Linked DNA regions of Homo sapiens: region 2 is linked to region 1. The links come from fine-mapping of genetic effects on gene expression. A gene starts in region 1. The other region holds a variant in brackets. All regions are shown on one strand. Distances are from middle to middle. Region 1 holds the start of KIRREL3 (kirre like nephrin family adhesion molecule 3). Region 2 overlaps KIRREL3 (kirre like nephrin family adhesion molecule 3).

The links.
Region 2: its variant is fine-mapped to the expression of KIRREL3 in whole blood (TOPMed, PIP above 0.99).

Annotation. Positions count from the first base shown.
Region 1 is chr11:126,999,258-127,002,161 of GRCh38, forward strand. KIRREL3 (kirre like nephrin family adhesion molecule 3) reads right to left here and starts at 1,513. Exons shown (of 17, transcript NM_032531.4): 1 at 1,198-1,513. The coding sequence starts at 1,252.
Region 2 is chr11:126,465,092-126,467,995 of GRCh38, forward strand. All of the region lies in intron 5 of KIRREL3 (kirre like nephrin family adhesion molecule 3), which reads right to left. Among named protein-coding and RNA genes, the nearest start is that of KIRREL3-AS1, 77 kb to the right of the region's middle. RefSeq lists enhancers at 596-655, 1,203-1,752, 1,753-2,300. The variant T/C (reference allele first, on the strand shown) is at 1,473.

The DNA of each region.
Region 1 (2,904 bases):
GCAAAGTTTGAACTGCACAGATAAGGAGAAAGTCTGCAGTGACCACAAGCACGGGTGGAAGAGCAGAAGAAGGAAGCCAGGTTTTTGCTTATATTTGGCTTCTCCCCGACAGGGGAGAAACAGAAGACATGCTGTTTGCTTGCAAAGCCAGCCACCCATGGCAGTGCTTTGCTTTCTCGAAAACTTTTACCCTTCATTTAATCAACAGATGGACGTGCTCTGTTGTGGATTTTTTCTGAGTCTTGCACCTCTAAGAGCTGTGTTGGCTGGCACAAATGCAGCCTCAGATGGCAGAGGTGCATTGGCATTCCAAAAGAGCGGGAAGGAGCCCATGTACTTGCCCCTCCAAACTCAATTCCACAGGTGACTTTTGATGCCTTTGGCCAACTAGGCACTCACATTCCCTCTCCCGAATTTCCCTCTCCTTTCTGCACCACTACCAGCCCCAGGGCTCCCAGTGGCAAGGAGCCTAGAGGTGGCAAAGTTCTTTCCGGAGAGTCCACCTGCTTCTCTGCCCCTGCTAGGCTGCAGAAAGGAAACCATCAGCACCACGGGCGAAATTTCATTTTATACCCTGAATTCAGTGCTGTGTAGGATTCAGAATTCAACCTAATTTAGGGAACTCGATGACGTTCAATGAAACTCTTTACAAGCTTTTCCCAACCACTGCAAATTACCCCCCACAATACATTCTGTAATTGCAACCCCCTTTTCAACGGTGCAAACCACACACATTCGCTTTTGAATACACTTGTGCAAGTCAAACCCTATTCAAGCTGAAATATCCACCTAAACCAAGCTCTCCCTCCCTGCCGTCTCCTTCCCTGGCCTGGGTCTGAAGGAGAGGAGGTGCCCAGAAGTTCAGAGCGGCATAACCACAGAGATACTACCTAATTAACATACCAGAAGCATAAAGAACTCATTTGCATTGGAGAGTTTGAGCTGGATATTGACAAGTGAGAGGAGAAAGTCATTCCCCTCCCCTCCCATACCCCTTCTTTCCAAAGGAAAATAAACAGTACCATTTTGTTGCATTCGCAAAGGCGAAGAGGCAATGCCAGAGCATCTCAGCCCGGCACCGAGAGACGCATCCATCAGTCCGAGTTCCCGAAGCCTGCCCACGTTCCTGCCCACAGCCTCCCGCGCCCTGACAACCCAGCCGACTTTCTTCCAACTCCAGCAGCGCAGGGGTCCTACCTTGACTGAAGAGGAAGAAGCAGACGAAGAGCAGATCGAGCTGGAAGGGTTTCATTCCTTAGCGCAGCGAAGGAAAGCCGGCGGGGTAACTTGGCTGTGGTTAGTTTCTCTTCCTTGGCGGCTCTCGGTGCTCAGCCTCCGCCGGTCCTCTCGGGTTCGCGCCTACCATCTGTCCGTCCGTGGGTCCCTCCGGGTGGCTTCGGTCTCTTTGTGCCTCTGGGTATCTGCAGCCAGCCGACACAAACTGCCTGTTCTTAGCCGCCTCGGGAAGCCGGGATTGTCAGCAATGTCCCCACTCGGAGAAGATCCATTCTCTGGCTCTTGGCATCCCAGGCACACGGCTTCCTCAGGCGGGCTCCTCCCACAGTGAGCGAGCGAGCTAGTGACGAGTGACAGAAGGACTCCTTTCACTGAAGCTGAGGCGAGGGGAGAGGGAGGGGAGACAGGTCATAATTAAAGAGGAAACACTCGGAAAAAGGAGATCTATGCAAAACGGACAGTGGGGGAAAAGGCTGTGTTCTTTCTTTTCCCTAAATAGGGAAAAATTCAGCTTTTGTCACCATTATTGACCAAAAGGCATCTTGAGCTTGGAGTGGAGCTGTGACTTTTTGTCCACACGATGTCCTGTTTAACAGTGAAGTTAAGGATGACTATCCACATGCATGTGCACAAAAACATGCACGCCCTGCCTTTGCAAAGGAACTGGAAACTGGGCTGAAAGGGAACTAGGAAGGGGGGGTGCGCATCTTTCCCTCGGAAGGACTTGGCCAATGTGTGCAGCGGGAGGCTCGGAGTTGGAGAAGAGATAAGCATGCTTTGCATTTCTGAGAGTTTCCTGTGGGTGGGTGGGTGGTTGTGGTGGGGGGGGGGGGTAGGTAATAAAACCTGAACATTTGGATCTTAGTTTGCTTTGCACTGCTCCTGGAAGACAAAATGCAGGAACTAAAGGGAAGGCAAGTAGGCTTGTGACACACACCCATTTATTATCATTATCCTGGTTTGTGCATTTCCTAACGAGGACAGGGGAGCAGCCTGTCTTTGCATTCAGAGCCTCTCCTCTAATGAGCGCTCCATCACTCTGAGCCTGTCTTTTCTCCAAGAGGTGCTGTGAGTCCAATTGCAAAGGAGAGGCCAAGGTCATAGACAACTGCGTCCTAAGGATCTTCAAGCCTTTTACCTGTCATGAAATTCACACTCCACACTCAAATCAAACTCGGTTTCCTCCAGGATATCAACATGAATTTATCTGGGTCTATTTACTTAATAGACATTTAGGCATGCTTGGTATAAGCAGGCCATGGAGGGAAGCAAAATAATAGGCACAGACCATGCCTTCAGAAGCTCATAATCTAGTGTGCAAGCAGAGTACACACACAAGATGCAAACTCTAAGGACATAACAAAACAACACAGAAAAATATTCAACGTTATGCACTGTGAGAAGGAGAGGTAAAGAGAGAGGAGAGGAAAATGAAAGACGCTCCCCTGACATGTGCCATTTAGCATTCAATTCTAAAATCAGTCATTACTGTCTTCAGTCCCTGGACCTTGGGGAGGTCTTTTGGGAAACTCTTAGCCTTTCCTCTTTCAGTAGTAGCACATCTTTTGAGGACTCTGCTCACTACAAGGCACATTCCAACTCCAAGTTTCCATGCGGATGTTAACTTTAAAAAATTATCCCTTGGTATTTGTGAACAAGAAAGAAAGA
Region 2 (2,904 bases), 530 kb before region 1:
TCCAGGTTGGGATTGGGGTCTGGTCAGTATGCAAAGGCTTCTGCTACTAGGAGGTACTAGGAAGGAACCTCACTATGGGTGCAGTCCTGTTTCCCCCGACTGGAGCCAGGGAGTAGATGAACAGACCACTCCTCCCTCAAAACCTCCCATAAAGTGACAATGGCAATGTCTCTAATTCTTATGAGGGCCCCGGAAGACAGCAGCATTATCTTTGATTAGCCAAAGAGAAACCTGTGTTCCAAGTGAGCCGGGAACTTGCTGGGTGGAGCTAGGATTTGCACTTAAGAATGGGTGAACCCTGAGCCACAGCCTCTGCTGCAGCCCCGGGGGTGCTGGACGGTGGGTACCGTGCTCTTGGCAGGACAGATGGGAACAGTTAGGGCCACAGGGAGAAACCTGTAAGCTCCTAGAACCCCACATTCTGGGTCCTTAATTCAGTGAGGTTTTTCTCAACTTGGGGCAAACCTCGTGGCGTCAGGAGAACAGGGCCAGAGCCTCTATATAGAACAGCACATCTTGCTGGAGGCAAAGCCGGACTGTGACATTCTAGAGAGCCACGCGGTGCAGCTGCAGGCCTGGGACTCAGGGTGCCAGCCACGGCCCTGGGCAGAGGGGCTGGAGGAGAGTGACGTGGCCAGATGCAGCAAGCCGGGGGCAGGACCACTGCAGAGGAGTGAAGTTGAACCCCAAGCCAAAGCCCGGGCAGGGAGGGAGCAGCAGCTGGCACCGCTTTACCACCCTGCCTTGGGCTCTTCAGCAGACCTCATCGAGTCTATAAATAGCCAAGTGATAATAAGAACAATTTCCTGGATGAAACTAAGACTTCGGGTAGGGCGCGCAGGGGCGGGGAGGTGGTGAGGAGCAGGTTGGTATTCTTCTTCTCTTCTTTACATTTCCGTTGTGCTAACAAGGGACATTTACATAAGCTTGACTCTGCCAGGAGCCCTTCCAACGGATGGGCTCTGGGCGGTGGGTGCCAGTGGCAGGGGAGGGAGGGGACCCAGCTCTAATTAGGCCCTCTGACTGCTCCCCCTCCTCCCTGCACCCAGCGTGCTCCTCCGCCTCGGAATGATGATTAATGACATATTTACTGGGTCCAGGCGTGTGCTTTTCTGGGAAATAAAAATTCTGGTTCAAGTTGTTTGTTCCACCTAATTAGAGAAAAAGGGAGATGTGTTCATTAAACAAAAGGAGGGTGAGGGGAAGGCACGTGCCCCAGCACCAACACCCTCTCTGTCCCCGTGGAAGGTCCCAGCACCTCCTGGGCCCCTAGCTCGCGGGGGACCCCAGGCCCCGTGCAGCGGGTATCCCAGGGAGGAAGGCTGGGTCTGCCAGCTCTGCTGCAGGACGACTGAGGGGAGGAAGGTGGGACAGAGCTGGGGGGCCCAGGGGGAAGGCTGGAGGGAGCCCTGCACCTGCAGGACAGGGCGGGATGTGGAGGGGCACGGGGGATCTGCACCCCCGGGTTTCTC[T/C]TCCCCCATTCCTTTCTGATCTCGCCTCTCTTGTTTCTTTTGCTTCACTCCTTTTCAGAAATGAATCTCCCCTAATTGTCACTTTTCTCATATGCAAATGGAGCCTCTGGACTTTGCAGCCTTGAAGGTACTGTCCAGGAGAACATTCTATCATCTGCAGGTTCTAGTCGCAGCTCCACTCCGCCCCTCCCTTCCCTGCTTCCCTTCACTGAGCTTGGCTCTGGGGACACACCATGGGCATTGAACCTCCCACCTCCTGCTTCAGAAAGCTTCATGCCTTGCAGGTGAGCTCCAGAAGGAAGTGAGTTATTCATGGTGGGCCACTCACTGTGGGAGCCACCGCCTCCAAGGCCTCCCTCCAGTGTGGTGAGCACTAACGTGCTGCCAGCCCCCGGCTCGCCCAGGTTGCCCATGTGACTGCCATGGTGGCTCCCAAGAGTCCCCGAGGACCCAGCTCCTGTGTGTGCAGATATGGGCCAGGGGCAGGCATATAGATGGCGTGTGTGCAGCATGTGTCCGGGAACGAGCGTGCCAGGGCATACACCCCCGTGGGTATGTGCGCGTACCTGTTTTTGTCTTTGGGTGTTCATGGGCCTCTGTCCACTGACTGCCGTGACTCTGCGGGGCCCCAGGTTCTCTCTGGACGCTGCCTGCTCAGGTGCCGCCTCAGGGCTGTGCACCCACCCCCACTGCCCCTCCCTAAGGGCAGGGATTTGGCACTCACTTCTCTAGTTCCCCAGCACCGGCCTGGGAGGCCGGTCTTCCCAGGTATGGTTGTACACAGTGTACCCCACCCCATGGTTTTCCTGCTTGGGTGGCAGTGGCTGGCCACTCTGCTCTTTCCAAAGCCCCCAGGGCCTCCTCTGGGCAGTGGAGAGCCAGGCTGAGCTCTCGGAAATGGGTGGGCTGGAGGGCAGACAAGGGGTGGGGGCCCAAGCACTGGTGCTAAATATGGGGTGCCCGATGACAGGCAAACCGTCTGGAAAGGCCGAGAGTAGCCTGATTGCCTGGCAGCAAGGCCGCCTCGCTTCTCCCCGCTACTCACCTTCCCCACCTGCTGGGTCCCTTTTTTTTTTTTTTTAAAAAATCATGGCTCTGCTTCCCCTTTTGATAGCTGCTTGGGGCTCCCCATGGGCTGGTTGCCACCTGGCTTGAATAAGGGTGTGTGGGCCAGGTGGAGGATGCGCAGTGCTTTTTGCCCCAGTCCCTGCATCCAGCCTTGAGGCCAGAGGCCAGAGGGGTGCCCTTCACAGAGAAGGCCAGGATGAGCCTCGGCCACACCCAGTGGAGACTCTAGGCCCCTAAGCTGGGCAGATAGGTGCAGGGTGATGGGTGAGTGACCAGGGAGGGGGTGCCCAGTGGAGGGTGAGGGCCCTATGCATGTGGGCACTTATCCCTTTCCTGAGTGGGGTCTCCAGAGCTCCTCTTAGCA